Linked DNA regions of Homo sapiens: region 2 is linked to region 1. The links come from fine-mapping of genetic effects on plasma protein levels. A gene starts in region 1. The other region holds a variant in brackets. All regions are shown on one strand. Distances are between the middles of the regions. Region 1 holds the start of NDST1 (N-deacetylase and N-sulfotransferase 1). Region 2 has its middle 4.7 kb from the start of RPS14.

Region 1 (9,056 bases):
TTGGGGTGGGGTGGTCATTTTCCTTAAGGCCTCCTATAGGACCCCTTGTCTCTATATCCCAGTGGCTAGCCTTAGGGAAATGTGAGGGAAGGGCTTTGGGGGTGTGTGACATCAAAGGGACTTAATTTACGTGTAGGTAGGGCTCTGGACAGGGCTGATGGGTCAGGCGGATCCTGGAGTGGCAGTCCACTGGACACTGGGAGTGACCTCGGTTTCTGGTCTGCATCCAGGCTGGGTGGTGCTTGCTCCAGCAGAGCCGTGGAGAGGTTGACAATGGGTGGAATGTGGCCCCTTCAGAACCCACACTTCACTGGTGCCCAGGCATGCCAGCCAAGCCCTCTGCTTCTGCAAGCCTGTTTCCCAGCAGTTGAGCTGTGCCAGGACAGCCAAGGACATTTCAGAGTCCCCAGGGCTCATAGCCAGGCTGTCACCGGGCATTGCTTATTTTCCCAGGGCCCAGGAGTCTTCAGGGATGGTGGGGGTTCTGGAGATGTTCCAAGGACTTTTCTTAACAGCTTGGTAAATTGAGGTCTGGAGAGAGCAAGGCACTTGACCAAGGTCTCACAAGGCCGCCTCCCTCATATCTGCCACTCCCCTCTGTTTCCGTGTCCTCTGCACAGACTCCTGGCCTTCTGCCTGGACGTTTGTAACAACCTCCCTCTTGTGGGCTCCCTAAGAGCTTTGTTTGTCCTCCATTATCGTAATCTTGCCATAATCTGCCAGATGCACACACTATTTGATGTGTCTACCTCCTGTCCCCTCCACTGACTGCCCGTGACAGAGTCTCCCCGACAGAGCTGTGCAGCATGAGGTTTAGGCCCCAGGCTCTGGAGCCAGTCTGAACTCTGTTTGGATGCCAGCTCTGCCCCTTCCTGGCCTGGTGACCTTGGGCATGATACCCTACTTTTCTGAGCTGCTGTCTTTGTGAAATGAAAACAGTAGCAATACTTAGTTGATAGGAATGTCAGGACAGTTAAATGGGATAACGTGTGAAATGCAGAGTACAACACCTGGTACCAAGTAAACTCTCAGAAATGGTCATCATTGTCCCAAAGGCCCATCAGTTGGTTGAACTGGAAAGTCGTGAGCATGGAGGAGTAGACCCAAGCTTGGACTGGGAGGCAGAGGATGTGGGCTCCAAGTTCATCTCAAACATTGTGTTCCTGTGTGCGTGTTGGGAAGCCACTTATCCTCTGGAAACCCCACTTTCCTTTTCTGAGAAAGGGGGAAGAAATCCCTGCTATACTTTAATAAAGTTGGCATGTGATACCGCAGCAATGCCTGTGAAAATGCTTTGCATCTGTGTAATGATTTAAAAATGGCACAGCGGTGGCTGTGGTGTGCTGATGGCGATGAGGGCATTGTAACCACAGTGGTGGGCAGCTGGCCGGGCTGGAGGCTGGTTCATCTGTGGAATGCTTAGTGCCCACACGGACTTCCCCATCCCTGCCTACCTGCTCCCGGCTGTCCACCAGCCTGCCTTCACATTAGCCCCGGCATTATATGCTAGAAAATGTGGGAGGTGCAAAGAGCTGATGGCATTTCCCCAGCCCTGGTGGGTTTTCTGTTATCTGTGGCTGATGCCATGGAATGTGGGGATTAAGAACCAGACAGATGCTGGTTCGAATCTCAGCTAAGCACTTCCCAACAGGGACCTTAAGCAAGTTGCTTAATCTCTGTGGACCTCAGGCTCCATATTTGTAAAATGAGGCCATGATCAAGTAGAGGCCAAGCATTTAACAAAGAGCCCAGAACATAATGGCATCAGGTGGTTGTATAATGTGTATTCTGCCTGGAACGTGGTCACTGACAACGTGGTGACTGACAGGTTATCGATGGCAGGAAGCTGGGGCCACTGTGCCCATTTCGGGGATTTGCTGCAGAGGTCGGTTATGCTCCCTACAGAATAACCCAGCTTAGATTTAGGAGGGTCTATGGAATCATATGGCATGATTCAATTTTTTAAATTAACTCGTTTTTTAAAATTTTATTTTTTTTAGAGATGGGGTCTTGCTGTATCTCCCAGGCTGCAGTGCCATAGTGCAGTTGTAGCTCACTGCGGCCTTGAATGCCCGGGCTTCCAGCAATCCTCCTACCTCAGCCTCCTGAATAGCTGGGACTACAGGCTCGTGTCACCATGCCTGGCTTCATGATTCTGTTTTATGTGACCAAACTGAGGCCGAGAAAGGAGTGGTACTTGCCTGAGGTCACAGGCAGGTTGTGTAAGAAGGCCGGGCCTAGGATGAGGCAAGTGAGGCATCTAAGTGCAGCGTCTCAGGAGGTGCCCGCTGTGTGCTTGCACATTGTGGAGAATAAGAACCTTTGTTTTTGAGAGAGGGTCTAGCTGTGTCGCACAGGTTGGAGTGCAGTGGTGCAATCTGGGCTTACTGTAGCCTCAACCTCCTGGGCTCAGGTGATCCTCGCACCTCAGCCCTCCCATATAACTGACTATAGGCACACGCCACTACGCTGTCTAATTTTTGTAATTTTTTTTTGTAGAGAAGGGGTTTTGCCATGTTGCCCAGGCTGGTGTTGAACTCCTGGTCTCAAACTCCTGGGTCAACCTGCCTTGAGCTCCCAAAGTGTTGGGATGACAGGCGTGAGCCACTGCACCTGGCAGTGAGCACCTTCTAAAAGGCTCCTCGCGGGCCTCACCTGAGCCTAGTCCTGGGTGAGTTCCTGATCTAGGACTGGAACCCTGGTCTCCTGGCCCCATGAACTGTTCTGGACCCCTGCGAGGTACTTTTTAGAGTCTCGCTGAGGCCTCCTATTCCTCTTTAAAAGGAGCCTCTGTGAAGTAGGTCACCCAGTGCTTTTTGCTCCACGTTTCTGTTCTCTAGCTGTTGTCTGTGTCCTAGAGAAAGCCGGGCCCACTTGCCCCCACCTCTCCCCACCTTCTGCCCCCTCCCCCTGCCAGCTGCGCCTCCATGTAAGTACTTTGAGTCCCTTAACACCCCAAGGCGTGTTGGTGGCCAGCTTTTGTCGTGATGACAAGCCCCAGCAAGTCTACAGGGACTGGCTGCTTTCATGTGGGCCCTCGGTGAAGCCTCCTTGGTCTCAGCAGGCCCTGTGTTGTACCCACCAGGCCTCTAGGAGATTAGGGGGCTTCTGTGGCTCCAGATGGCTCAAAGCTTTTCCCTTCCTCTGTGTTATCCCTAGCCCACCTGGCTTCCGTCCTCACTGGCCACGGGGCTTGGGGGATTTTCAGTCTCTCCAAGGCTCTGGCATCTTCCAGAGTGGGCTAGTCTTGGAGTGTCCATCTGAGCCATTCTTTCTGTCACCACTGCTGGGCCTGCCTGCTGGGCCTTAGGTGACTTCTTGAGAGGTGGCCAAAGCTGCTAATCCCTGGAAGGGGCTCCTAGGATTTCCCTGTGGCTGGCAGGACCCTTGGCCACCCACGTGGTGTGACATGAGGAGCCTGGAAAGCCAGCCCAACCTCCATCCTTAAGCCCCACGTATAAACATACCTTTTTTTTTTTTTTAACTGCAGCTCTCAGAGCCTGCAGTTCTACTGTTGTCAGGTTGCCTTGTGCTCTCCTTGGCATCCTCTAAGAAGGCAAATACCTTTTCAGCTGGGTGCTTTTAAGCATTTGCTGTCAAGAAGCAAGCCCTGGCCAGCCTGGCCCTTTTCCAGTGTTCTGTGTGACCGTGGCCAAGTTGCTTCTCTTCTCTGGGTCTCGTCTTTGTAAGACCCTTTTCAGCTCTAGCACTTTGAGGCTCCAGCATGGATTCTTACACCCTCCACACCTTTGCCGGTCACCTTTCTTCCTTCTCTGCAGGGTGGGGCACAGGGAAGGGCCTGGCAGCTGAGCTGGGTGGGGCCAGGGGCCAAAAGCCAGCATCATAGACACTTTTCCCTCCAGCTGGGCATACCAGTCCTTCCTCTTCTTCTCAGGACAGGTGGGGAAACTGAGGTCTGGAGGGGGAAGGGCCAGGGCTGGAACCAGGACCCAGTTATCCTTATTGCCAGTGAGTGCTCCTCCTGCTGTTGGCTGCTACCTCTCTTGAGAGGGTCAGAAGACCCACTAGCATGAGGGTCAGGGACATGCTTTTTCCTTTCCCGTGGAAGGCTCCTCCAGGCAGGGCTTGGGTGAGGCAGGCGAGGTGCCAGTGGTTCCCTGGGCACGGGGCAGAATCGGAGGAGGACATCCTCTTTCTGAGGTTAAGGAGGTAGGGGCTGGAGGCCTTGACAAGGGAGGTGGCATGAAGGGGCGTGGAGGTTTCTAGGAACGTGGTTGGTGGCGCAGGGTGCTCTAGGGCCACCTCCCTCCCTTGCTTCTGCCTTCCCTTTCTCCTGGGGAGGGGACTGGGCCAACAGTAATGCCATTTTTCCTGGCCCTGGGATTAGGTGCAGCCGTGTTAAGGAGAGGACATTCGAGAGGGCGTGGCGAAGTGAAGAGGAACCTCACGCCACTGCCTGGAGCTCCGGTGGGTCTGGGTCTGGTCATTGTCTCGCTGGCTCCTGTCCACTCTGACCACTGTCCCTGGCCCCCTGCCCTGTCCAGTCCTTCCAGGTCCATCTGAGTGTGTGTGTGTGTGTGTGTGTGTGTGTGTCCCCAGGAGGGATCTGGGGGTACAGGCTGGCACTTGAGCCTGGCACTGGGTCCTGCCTTCATTCCAGATCAGAAGCAGCTCCCGGAACTGCCCCAGGGAGAGGTCTAGGCTGACCTGGCAGATTCCTGATGGAGGAGAAGGAGGAGGAGGCTGAGGGATGGGAAGGAAGGGCTCAGTTTCTCCTGTGGCTTCTCCAGACAGCTAGGCATGTCCACAAATCCACCTGAAGCCAGCAGGTCCAAGAGTTTAAAGATTTATTTCAGGGCCACGGGGGAAGCTGAAATGGTGAGATCCCAGGGCTCTCAGATGTTGTGTTTGTGGCTTTGGTCCTGTCTAGACTGTGAGAGCCATGGCTTGTCAAAGCCAGAGGGGCCCCTAGAGAATTTCCATGTTCTTAACTTGGCTTTTGATGGGGGCCAGTCACAACCACTCTGAATTTGTGTGTCTGGGGAGAGAATCTGCTAATAGCCATCATTAGATTCTCAAAGGGTTCTATAACCCCCAGAAGGTCACAGACTTCTCCTCTAGTCCATACCCCTCACTGCAGTTGCAGAAACTGAGGCTCAGAGAAGGGAAGGGACTTGCCCAGAGACTCACAGGCGGCAATGGAGGCTGTGGCACCCCCTGCCTCTGTCTTCCTGCCAGCATTCTGCCTGACCTTACAAGCTGGGGAAGCTTGGCTCATTCAGGGGACAATGACCTCTCATCCCCTGATGAGAGGAAGGGGATGACTGGGAGGGAAGGACTGGGAGGCTGTTGTGGTTTCCAGGCCCGCATGGATTTTGGCTTCTGCATCCTTGAGATGGAGGCCCCTGAGTCTGCCTGTGCCTTGGAATCTCTCAGGGTGTATCTGAGGCCTGGAGTCGGGCATGCGGGAGGGTGGGGGCTAGTGGTGACCCACATTTCCCAGCTCCTCTGCAGGGGAGGCAGATAGGGGAGAAGCTCAGGGTGTGATAAAATTGTTTTTACTTCACTGGGCATAAATGACAAATAAATGAAGTGAGGGTTGGGAAGTGCTTGGTAGAGCGCCTGGCACATGCCAGGCCGTGAGGCGAGGTGCTCACCATTGTCCTTTGCGGTGCCCTGCTAGCTGAGATCTCCTGCTTCTGACCCTCGCTCCTGCCTCTTCCTTAGCATGAGGCCTCTGCCTGGGGCAGGAGGTGGCCCCCCTTTCTTTATTTTTTTTGAGATGGAGTTTCGCTCAGGCTAGAGTGCAATGGCGCCATCTCGGCTCACTGTAATCTCCGCCTCCCAGGTTCAAGCGATTCTCCTGCCTCAGCCTCTGGAGTTGCTGGGATTACAGGCATGTGCCACACACCTGGCTAATTTTGTATTGTTAGTAGAGATGGGGTTTCACCGTGTTAGCCAGGATGGTCTCGATCTCAGGACCTTGTGATCTACCCGCCTCAGCCTCCCAAAGTGCTGGGATTACAGGCAGGGGCCACTGCCCCGAGCCGCCATCCCCCTTTCTTATATTGGGGTGTCTGATGGGGGCGTGAGGACCCTCTGGCTGAAGTCCTGCCTTGCTGGGTTCCATGGTGCACCTCTCTGCAGTGCAGGCTTTCCCAGGAGGCTGAAGCTCAGCTAGAGAAGCTGGGTCAGCAGCCCTGGGCCTGGTCACCTCCAGGAAGCCTCTCTCCTGGGCTGCAGACCTGGCTTGGGAGTGGTGTGGAAAGTAGGACTGCAGAAGGGTAACGAACAGGGGCTGTGGGGTGGGCTGGGAGGGGCATCCTAGCTCCACCTCTGCCCAGCTGTGTGACTTCGAGCGGTTGCTTACCCTCTCTGAGCCTCCATTTCCTTGTCTGTAAAGTGCTCATAGCAGTGACACCTCTTTCAGGGTGTTAGGATTGAGCGTGATGGAGCAGGTAAGGCTCCTGGCACAGCCCCACATGTTCGCAGGAGCTTAACGTTGGCCGCCAGTAAGGGAGGTTATGATATGTGTTGGGATATGCTGCTTTGTTCCTTTTGAGTGTCTGTGATCTGAGCCTAAGGAAAAAATAGTTCTGGATGGATTTGACTCTGTCATAGGCAGATTTGGGGATAGGGTGGGCAGAGAGCCCCATTTTGGGAAGATTTGTGGCCACTGCATAACATTCTGTGTGATGGACCTGACAGCCTTGGTGTGCGTGAAGAGCCTCAGTGGGACTGTCAGGACTGTCCCGTCCTTGGGACGGGAGGGTGGCAGGTGACCTGCCGTGTTCCCCACACAGCCCCACCCCCAGGCTGTCTGGTATGTTTGCTCGGTAAGCCCTTTTTTTCAGAGCTGGTACAAAGGTAAACTCGCAACTCAGGCCCTGTTGGAAGAAGGACACATTCTCAACAAGTGAGGTCTAAGTTCCTGAGGTTTTCTGTTGGGCCTTCCCTGCCAGGGAACCCAGAACAGATTCACAAGTTGAGAACCAGGGAGTGAACCAGTAGTGCTTAATGCTTTGTTTCCTTGTTGATTGACGGATGATCTGTGAGCTACTTCCAAGAAAGATCACTAGAGGCTGCTTGTGATACTAAAACACATATAAAATGGATGAAAACAAACACAGACAGAAAACTATTGAAAAGGAATGGAGAAAGGGATGTGCAGGGCATCTGGCAAATGTTAGCTGTCTTAGGTGATCACAGAGGGGCTGCGGAGATGGGGGATGAGGGGCCCAGGCTCTGGAGCCCAGCAGCTGTGTGCTGAAGTTCCCATTCACCCCCTTATTAGCTCTGTGGGCTGCAGCAAGTGACTGGCCTCTTTGGACCTCAGTTTCTCATCCGTATAATGGGGGGAATCTAGGTCATGGTGCTGTGGTAAGGTTGAAATAATGGCATGTAACGCAGACATGGCATGTCTCATAAATGGAAGTTAATGTTATTAATGCATTTAGCTTGGAGATGCCGCGTAGCAGATTCACAGAGGGGAAGGTAATTGGCAAGGGCACAAGGCTCTTGAGTACCTGCTGTGGGTAGGAGATGGCTTGTGCCTTGGAAAGCTTTCAGTGAAGTTGGGAGCCCCATGTTCTAGTTGCAAGAACAACTGATACCTGGTGTTGCGTGGTGGGATGTGGAGCAGGGGAGCTCAATCAGGACTTTAGAAATCCAGAGCAGGCTTGTTCACCTCCCTGCTGAGGCTGGCATTGGAGGAGGAGGGACAGGGTTTTAATGGACAAGAAAATGGACCAAGGTAAATGAGAGTGGGGCACACCAGACGGCACAAGCCAGGAGGTCCTTTCCTCTCTCTGGGTCTCAGTGTCCCCAGGGGCTTACTGCAGGGTAGACTGTGCTCTCTGTGGCCCTGCGACTCTGAGCCAGACCTCCAACAGTCTCTTTCCCGGTGGTGGTGGTCCTGGACTCTGGGGTGACTGACAGGCGGCAGCTTGGCTCCTGGCCAGGCAGCACTGTGGGGGTGATGGGGGATGGGGCATGTAGCAGATTCCAGCAGAGGAAGGGATTTGCTTCTGGTCTCGGCCTCCCAGGGATGTAATCACGCTGGAGAAACTCCCGCACAGCTGGGAAGCAAATGTGGAGGATTTTCCTTGCTGAGCTGGATGTGGTGGGTGGGGCAGGCTGTGGTAGGGTGGCTGGTGGAGCTGGGAAGCTGTGGGGTGTGGCTGGGTGGGGGTGATGATGTGACTGTGCTGGGGGTGTGACTGGCTGGGAGGGGCTGGATCAGCTATGGGGAGTGGCCCTGGGTGCATGTGGGGCTACCTGTTCCCCAGGCCTGCAGCCACTGCTACGCCCTCCCCTGCTCAGGTCCCTGCCCAAGTCCAGGTACCCACCCATTCACATCCTTCTGAGGTTGCTGGCAGAGCTCTTTCTGCACTGACCTCCTCTCAGCCCCCACCCCATGTGCATGTGGCCCAGATGCCTATGATGATGCCATTTGAGCCTGTCATGTGCATGTGAATGTGGTGTGTGTGTTGGGGGGGCAGGGAGCAGTGTGTGGTCCACAGAGGGCATTGTCAAGAGTGACCTAGGCTGGAAATAAAATGTGGGCTGGGTGAGCATTCAAGGCCCTGGGCACCTTCCCCCATTCACTGCAGCCATGTCGTACCAGAGACATAAAACCTTGGGTTCCAGAGACCTCTAGAAACCCTTGTGGAAAGGTCATGGTCGCCACTGCATTTTCAGTGCCTAGTGGCATGCTTGGCACCTAGTGGTGCTCAGTAAATACAGGATGAGGAAACAGGTCGTTTGCTTGTTCCGCACTCCCAGAAAGATCTCGAACCTCCTTCCTGGATCCCATTCTCTTGCTCCTTCCCTCTGGCGTCAGCCTGGCCTCCCTTCCTCTCTCTTTCTCAATTCACTACTAATTTGATATGTGGCCTTGGGCCAGTTCCTTCCTGAGCCTCACTTTCCAAATCTGTTACTGAGTAATCATTTTATTAGCTTATATTACCATGTGCCAGGCACTGAGCTCAGTGTTTTACATGCCTCATCTCTCTTTGTCTTGGTAGCTGCCCTGCAAGATAGATAAGTAGTATAAACCCCATTTTAGATTTAGTGAAACTGAGGTTCAGAGAGGT
Region 2 (9,056 bases), 54 kb before region 1:
CCTAAGCGACAGTACGAAGCGGCTACACCCGCGGGGTGAGGTGGGCCTGTATTCCATGATGGCGGTGGTCGTGGCTAGACAGACTTCCGCCATCCTGACTCCCGCCCTGGCAGCCTTGGAGCGGCAGCGCCCCTTGTGTGGAGCAGGGGAATAACAACAACAAAACGGCCTTAATTAAAGCTAGGGTGGCGCCGGCCTGTGGTCCCAGTTACTCAGGAGGCTGAGGATCGCTTCGTCCAAGTAGTTCGAGGCCAGCCTAGGCAACATAGTCGGGGAAAACACACCGTAATCACTTACTTTGGCATATTATATAATGGGCAAAATAAGAATAAATTATTCAATATGTATTTTCAGACCGGTCTGGGCTAAACAGTTTATATGCATTGCTTCATTTACTCCTCAAGACATTATCAAATAATTTTGATTTCCCT[C/T]TTACAGATAAAGGATGTTAACTGAGAGCACACCTTTGCAGAAGGGTTTGGAATTCTAGCTTCAAAGCCCTCGTGTTTAATAGCTACTTCCACATAGCCCTCTAATAACAATATACATGTATATATTTCGACCGAATCTTGTTCTGTAGCCAAGGCTGGAGTGCAGTGGCGCAATCTCGGCTGACCGCAACCTCTGCCTCCCAGGTTCAAGCTATTCTGCCTCAGCCTCCCAAGTAGCTGGGACTACAGGCGCGTGCCACCACGCCCGACAAATTTTTTGTGTGTGTGTATTAGTAGAGACGGGGTTTTACCGTGTTGACTAGGGTGGTCTGGATTTTCTGACCTCGTGATCCACCTGCCTCGGCCTCCCAAAGTGCTGGGATTACAGGCGTGAGCCACCGTGCCCAGCCTCTAATAACAATATTGAAGGACCTTGAAGGCTTGGGAGAATATGTCGGAGCTGTGGGGAAGGGCCAAGAAGTGTACCTCACAGAGCTAGGCAAGCGGTAGATACATTTTATCTATGTACTATATGTAATATTTATATGGAATATATATAGTATTTTTGTATTACATACTATATAAATATTATAAATATATTTTAAATATATAAATATATCCCGTGGCTCCAGCCTGGGTGACACAGCGAGACCCTGTCTCAAAAAAAAAAAAAATTTATTCTGCTAAACTGAAAAACTCAACATACCTTCTTTTTTTTTTTGAGACGGAGTCTGGCTCTTGTTGCCCAGGCTGGAGTGCAGTGACGCCATCTTGGCTCACTGCAAGCTCCGCCTCCTGGGTTCAAGTGATTCTCCTGCCTCATCTCCCGAGTAGCTGGGATTACAGGTGTGCGCCACCACACCCGGCTAATTTTTGTATTTTTAGTAGAGACGGGGTTTCACCATGTTGTCCAGGCTGGTCTCGAACTCCTGCCTCAGGTGATCCACCCGCCTCGGTCTCCCAAAGGGCTGGCATTATAGGCGTGAGCCAATGCACCCAGCCTCAACATACCTTCTCGTTGCATTGCATTTCTTCGATGATGAGTGACGTCAGACATCTCTTTACGGATTGTTTTAACCATTTGCATCTCTTCTGTGAAATGTCTGTATTTTTTGAAGGAGAGGGCTTTTTTGTTTTAATGAGCTTCCCAGTATGTTAGCAGAGACTGGAGTATTGTGGAGTGAGTTCCGCTTTGATTAAGAGTTGTATTAAACAGACCTCCAAACCTCATGTGGCTTCATGGAGGGAGCAAGCCTTGATCTTATGGCTGAAGGCAGCCCACACAATCACCTCAGGACAAATTTTTCCACAGGGAAGCCTATCTTTATCCCAGAAACCATCAAAGTCACTGCTTTCAAACTCCACTTTATTTAATCAACATATTTATTGTTTCTGCAGTTATTAGCTATGGTTCTTTGGGCAAAAATTGTAACCTCTCTGGGCTTCAGTTTTCTCATCTGTGAAATGGGATGATAATAGCATATTTTTATTTTTATTCATTTTTTTTTTTTTTTTTGAGACAGAGTCTCACTGTTGCCTTCCCCTGCCTCAGCCTCCCTAGTAGCTGGGACTACAGGCACACACCACCACACCCGGGTAGTTTTTTTTTTTTTTTTTTGTATTTTTAGTAGAGACGGGGTTTCACCATGTTGGCCCAGGCTGATTTCGAACTCCTGACCTCAGGTGATCCAGCCCCCGCGGTCTTCCAAAGTGCTGAGATTACAGATGTGAGCCACCGCGCCTGGCCGATAATAGTACATTTTTAAATGTATGTTGAAAACTTCAGGGCTCAGTGGCTCACGCCTATAATTCCAACACTGTGGGAGACTGAGGCAGGAGGATCACTTGAGCTCAGGAGTTGGAGACCAGTCTGGGCAACATGGTGAAACACCTTCTCTACAACAAATAGAAAAATTAACCAGGTATGGTGACCTGCACCTATAATCCCAGCTACTTGGGAGGATCACCTGATCCTGGGAGGTGAAGGCTGCAGTGAGCTGTGATCACACCACTGCACTCCAGCCTGGGCGATAGTGAGACCCAATATATATATTTTTAAAATGTGTAATGAAAACCTGTATCTTTTGTGTTTTGAGACAGAGTCTCACTCTGTCGCCCAGGCTGGAGTGCAGTCGCACGATCTCAGCTCACCACAACCTCCTCCTCCCGGGTTCGAGCAATTCTCCTGCCTCAGCCTCCCAAGTAGTTGGGATTACAGGCGCCCTTCACCACACCTGGCTAATTTTTTGTATTTTTAGTAGAGACGGGGTTTCACCATGTTGTCCAGGCTGATCTTGAACTCCTGACCTCAGGTGATCCACCAGCCTCGGCCTCCCAAAGTGCTAGGATTACAGGCATGAGCCACCGCACCCAGCCAAAAACCTGTACCTTTATTGGACGCTTACTCTTTGTCAGGCACTGAGATACAATCATGGCATTTGAACTGAGACTTGAAAGTAGAGTAGGAATTAGCTACGTGAAGGTGTGAAGAATGGTCTGGGCAGGGAGAATAGAATATGCAAAGGCCCTGAAGTGGGTAGGTGTTTGGAGAACTCAAGGAATTAAAAAATGGCCAGTAGTACTGGGGTGTTGTGAATAAGGGAAGAGGAATGGGGGCTGAGGCTGGAGGGGCAGCACAGCCACTTTCCGTGGGGCCTCACCTCACTGTTGCCATGTCTGCGTTCCCCACCCCACCGCACCCCTGCGCTGTCAACACTGCCAGCACAGGGGTGTACTTACCCTCCCCTCTCAGAGCTCACACACTCACTCAGGGAGCACTCACTGAGCACCTAGGATGTGTCTGACATTGTAAATACTTGGGATACATCAGTGACAAAAACAATGGTCCCTACCCTCTCAAAGTCTACATTCTGGAAGGAAGAGCAGACATAATGTCTATGTAAGCTTCCTATTTTGTTAGAAAGTGGTCAGTCCTGTGGAAAGAAGAAAAAGTTGGCCAGGTGTGGTGGCTCACACCTGTAATCCCAGCACCTTGCATGGCTCAGGTGGGCAGATCACCTGAGGTCAGGAGTTTGAGACCAACCTGGCCAACATGGTGAAACCCCGTCGCTACTAAACATACAAAAATTAGCTGGGGGTGGTGGCAGGTGCCTGTAATCCCAGCTACTTGGGAGGCTGAAGCACGAGAATAGCTTGAACCTGGGAGGCAGAGGTTGCAGTGAGCTGAGACCGCGCTGTTGCACTCCAGCCTGGGCGACAAGAGTGAAACTCCATCTCAAAGAAAAAAAAAGAAGAAGAAGAAGAAAGAAAAAGTCAGGCTGGGCGAAGGGTACTGAAGGTCTGAGGAAAGGGGTGGGGTGGGTGGCTGAATTAAACAGAGAGGGCCAGGCAGCCTTGCTGAGGAGTGATTTGAGCAGAGCTGTGAGGTGGTGAAGGGGTGGCCTGCCCCTCCACACCTGTGGGTGTTTCTCGTCAGGTGGGATGAGAGACTGAGAAAAGAAAGAGACACAGAGACAAAGTATAGAGAAAGAGTGCCAGGGGACTGGCGCTCAGCATATGGAGGGCCCACGATGACACCGGTCTCTGAGTTCCTTCAGTATTTATTGATCATTATCTCTACCATCTTGGAGAGAGGGATGTGGCAGGACAATAGGGTAATAGTGGGGAGAGGGTCAGCAGGAAAACGTGTGAACAAATGTCTCTGTGTCATAAACAAGGTTAAGAAAAAGGTGCTGTGCTTTGATGTGCACATACATAAACATCTCGGTGCATTAAAGAGCAGTATTGCCGCCAGCATGTCTCACCTCCAGCCCTAAGGCGGTTTTCTCCTATCTCAGTAGATGAAATATACAATTGCGTTTTACAACGAGACATTCCATTGCCCAGGGACGAGCAGGAAACAGATGCCTTCCTCTTACCTCAACTGCAAAGAGGCCTTCCTCTTTTACTAATCCTCCTCAGCACAGACCCTTTACGGGTATCAGGCTGGGGGACGGTCAGGTCTTTCCCTTCCCACAAGGCCATATTTCAGACTATCACATGGGGAGAACTTGGACAATATCTGGCTTTCCTAGGCAGAGGTCCCTGCAGCCTTCCGCAGTGTTTTGTGTCCCTGGGTACTTGAGATTAGGGATTGATGATGACTTTCAAGAAGCATGCTGCCTTCAAGCATTTGTTTAACAAAGCACATCCTGCATAGCCCTAAATCCATTAAACCTTGAGTCGACACAGCACATGTTTCTGCGAGCACAGGGTTGGGGGTAGGGTTACAGATTAATAGCATCTCAAGGCAGAAAAATTTTTCTTAGTACAGAACAAAATGGAGTCTCTTATGTCTACTTCTTTCTACACAGACACAGTAATGGTCTGATCTCTCTTTTCCCCACAAGGTGGGAGAGGGAGCCAGCCTTGCAGGTATCTAAGGGAAGATGGTTATGGGCAGAGGGAGCAGTATGTGCAAAGCCTAGAGGCGGGAGTATGACTGGCATGTTCTAGCAACAGCAAGGAGGCCAGGGTGGCTGGTATGGGGTGAGCCAGGGCAGGCAGGTGAGGAGATGTGACGAGAGGTCACTGGGGGTGGAGAGAGATTGTGTAGACCATGTAGGCCTTAGAGTTCATTGGCTTTTACTGAGTGGAGCCACTGGAAGGTTTTAAGCAGAGGGTGACAGAACTGACTTCTGTTTTAATAGGTGCACTCTGGGTGCTCTGTGGGGTGGGGTGAGGGGCAAAAGTAGAAGCAGGGATGACGGTTAGGAGGCTTTTGCAATAAAGCAAGTGAAAGACATTGGTAGCTAAGACGGAGGAGGCATCAGTAGAGGTAGAAAGAAGTCGCTAATATTTGGTTTTATTTTGAAAATGGGGTCCGATAGCTTCTCGGCCTTTTGGCTAAGATCAAGTGAAAATGGTGGCCGAGTGCAGTGGCTCACGCCTATAATCCCAGCACTTTGGGAGGCCAAGGTGGGTGGATCAATTGAGGTCAGGAGTTCGAGATCAGCCTAGCTAACATGGCAAAACCCCATCTCTACAAAAAATACAAAAATTATCTGGGCATGGTAGCGCGCACCCATACTCCCAGCTACTCGGGAGGCTGAGGCATGAGAATCGCTGGAACCCAGGAGGCAGAGATTGAAATCGTACCACTGCACTCCAGCCTGGGTGACAGAGTGAGACTCTGTCTCAAAAAAAAAAAAAAAAAAAAAGAAAAAGAAAAGAAAATGAGAAAATGGATCCAACAGGATTTACTGATAGATTAAACTAGACATGGGGCATGGGAAAAGAGTGTTGTCAAAGATGATTCTAGCATTTATGGCTGGAGGAACCAGAAGGATGGAGTTGCCCTCAGCTGGGGTAGGGAAGGCAGAGGGTGGAGGAGGTTTTTAGGGGAAGATCAGATGCCCACTCGTAGGCCTGAGTTTGAGCTGTTTATTACATACCCGAGTGGAGCTGTCAGAATGACAGCTGAGATAGATGAATCTGGAATTGAGAAGTGGATCAGGGCTGGAGGTGTAAATTTGGGAGTCTCCAGCATACAGATGGTATTTAAAATCACAAGACTGATTTTAATCACGAGTCCCGCCAAGGGGCTGAGTGTAGATAAAGAAGAGGCTAAGGACTGAGCGTTGAGAGCATGGGGATAAGAGAAGGAGAGAGCCAAGAAAATAAGCCATGAACAGAAATGAAAGGAGACCAGGAGAGGGCACATCCAGAAGGCAACTGGAGAAATGCAATCAAGCAGAAGGGAGTGTGCACCTGTGCCATCGCGCTTAGAGGTCAAGGATAACAAGGGCTAAGGATGACCGTTGGATGTAGCAACATGAAATACTGGGGACTTTGACAACAGCAGCTTGATTGGGGGGCTGGGTGGGGGGAGTGCAAAAGTGTGAATGGAGTAAGAGAGGGAGGTCCACACCTCTTGGACAGCTCTTTCCAATATTTATTTATTTATTTATTTATTTATTTATTTATTTTAAGATAGAGTCCCTCTCTGTTACCAGGCTGGAGTGCAGTGGTGTGATCTCAGCTCACTGCAATCTCCACCTCCTGGGTTCAAGTAATTCCCGTGCCTCAGCCTCCTGAGTAGCTGGGATTACAGGCACACGCCACCACACCCAGCTAATTTTTGTATTTTTAGTAGAGAAGGGGTTTCACCATGTTGGCCAGGATGGTCTCAATTTCTTGACCTCATGATCTGCCCACCTTGGCCTCCCAAAGTGCTGGGATTACAGGTGTGAGCCAGCATGCCTGGCCCAATTATTATTATTTTTTTAATTTTTAAAATTTTGTTATTTTTGAGACAGAGTCTCACTCTGTTGCCCAGGCTTGAGTGCAACCTCTGCCTCCCAGGTTCAAGCGATTTTCATGCCTCAGCCTCCGTATAGCTGGGATTAGAGGTTTGCACCACACACCTGGCTAATTTTTGTATTTTTAGTAGAGATGAGGTTTCACCATGTTGGCCAGGCTGGTCTCGAATTCCTGACCTCAAGTGATTCGCCCGCCTCGGCCTCCCAAAGTGCTAGGATTACAGGCATGAGCCACCGTGCCTGGCCCTCATTTTTCTTTAAATACTGAGTCTCCCTAAGTTGCCCAGGTTGGTCTTGACCTCCTGGGCTCAAGTGGTCCTCCCACCTCGGCCTTCCAAAATGCTGGGATTACAGGTGTGAGCCACCATGCCCAGTTCCTTCATAGACAGCTCTTGAGTTTTTCTGCAGAGGTGTGCCAGGGGGCAGATGGAGAATGGGAATGTGAGATCAAGAGGTTCTTTTTTTTCCTTTTTTAAGGTTGCATCAATAACAGATATTTTAACACTGCTGGGAATAGTCTAGAAGTGAAGGAAAAACATGCTGGAGCCCTGACATTGAGCAGGCAATAGGTAAAGGCCTCTGCTGCGCATGTGGAGGCATCGGCTTTAGGCAGGAATGTGGACAGCTCACCTCAGGTGCTAATGAGGAAGGAAGACGGTGGGGGCAAATGTGGCAGCAGGAGCTGGAGAAAGTTCTCATTCCGGAAGTGGAAAGCAAGCAGCTTCCTCTCAACAACCACAGGAGGTAGAAAATGTTTAATCCCCCCCGTTATAACTGAGGACACAAGGAAAAGGTCAACAGCTCTAAGTGGGGCACCAGGATCTGGGCCCAAGCAGTCTGACTCCAGAGCCCAATTCGTGTAACCTCAGGTACAGGTGTTTTGTAAATATCTGTTGATTGGATGAAGGAAGAGCAAGGAATTAGCCTGCAGCAGCAGAAGCCAAGCCCTTTCCTGGGTCCTCAAGCTCAACCTGGAAGGCCCCGTGCTCCCCATTCTCGGCAGCAGCTCATACTGTCATTTGTCCAGGAGCTCTATCCCCTCCTCCCCTTGAAGGGTAGTTTGCAAATGCAACAGAGGAAGGGTGGGAAGAAGCTGTGGCTCAGAGAGGGTGAGTTTGCTCACCAGGACACACAGCCAGGAATCAGACACCAACTGTGGCCCAGGTGGTCCTGGGACTTGGAGGGAGGACCTTCTCAAAAGTGTTGGCTGCTGTGAAGCTGTCGTGGAGTCATGGGTCTATTGCTGGTCTGAGCCCCAGAACACACATGAGCGCTAGTCTGCGTGTGTAAGTGTGGCACACAAGGGAGAGCGGCGGTGTGTGTGTTGGGGATTAGGCCAGGTGCACACCCTCCAGGGTCCAGGGGAGGAGGGGCTACAAAAGGCCTGGAGATGGCTCCCTCTGTAGCAATGCCCCTCTAGAGACCGGCAGGCTTCGTCCTCCAGGGCTGTAATTCACCTGCTCCCCGTGCTCACAGGACTCACACGCGGTCTGCGAGCAACTGATGGGAGCCCCTGTGTGCCCCAGGACCTGTCATCTCAGCACTCGCCACACAGTGACCGTGTCACGGCCTGCTGCCAAGGGGCTTTGTCTAGCAGGGAATATGGGCAAGAAACAAGGACAAAGTAAGGAACGGGGGATACGGAGGGCTCTGGCTTGCTCAGGGGCCTTGCTGGAGGGCCCAAAATGGGAGTAGGAGACAGCCAGGACAGGAAGAAGAGGGTGGGAGAAAACTCCCAGCTCAGGCCGGGCGCGGTGGCTCACGCCTGTAATCCCAGCACTTTGGGAGGCCAAGGCGGGTGGATCACGAGGTCAGGAGATCGAGACCATCCTGGCTAACATGGTGAAACCCCGTCTCTACTAAAAAAATAAAAAAATTAGCCAGGCGTGGTGGCGGACGCCTGTAGTCCCAGCTACTCAGGAGGCTGAGGCAGGAGAACGGCGTCAACCCGGGAGGCGGAGCTTGCAGTGAGCCGAGATCGTGCCACTGCACTCCAGCCTGGGCGACAGAGCAAGACTCTGTCTCAAAAAAAAAAAAAAAAAAAAAAAAAAGAAAAGAAAAAGAAAACTCCCAGCTCACGAAACAGCACGTGGAAAGGTCTTGAATCAAAGGGGACCTGGGATCATTCAGGGATTCGGGAGAAGTCTCTGTGCTGAGGGGAGGGGGTGGGTGGGAGGTAAGATCAAAGGTTGGGGCCTGGGCCTTGGGGGCGGTGGGTGAGAGGTCTCCCTCGCTCTGACCCAACGGAGGCAGATCCTCGGTTTGATCCTGGGCCCAACTCTGCTCAGTGAGGAATGTCGGGGCGGGGTCCCGGGGTGCGGCCCCACCCACGGTGCGTGGAATACAGGGGCGGGGAACGCCCGCT

The links. A credible set is the group of variants that fine-mapping cannot tell apart. PIP is the chance, under the fine-mapping model, that this variant and not a neighbour inherited with it causes the effect. Protein levels are from the aptamer-based SomaScan assay of Sun 2018.
Region 2: its variant is the best candidate, but not a certain one, in a credible set for the plasma level of the NDST1 protein (Sun 2018, PIP 0.55).

Annotation. Positions count from the first base shown.
Region 1 is chr5:150,503,799-150,512,854 of GRCh38, forward strand. NDST1 (N-deacetylase and N-sulfotransferase 1) reads left to right here and starts at 4,333. Exons shown (of 15, transcript NM_001543.5): 1 at 4,333-4,428. RefSeq lists enhancers at 6,317-6,890, 8,192-8,845 and a silencer at 7,809-8,103.
Region 2 is chr5:150,449,940-150,458,995 of GRCh38, forward strand. No RefSeq gene overlaps it. Among named protein-coding and RNA genes, the nearest start is that of RPS14, 4.7 kb to the left of the region's middle. RefSeq lists enhancers at 1-255, 1-188 and silencers at 4,203-4,403, 8,963-9,032. The variant C/T (reference allele first, on the strand shown) is at 432.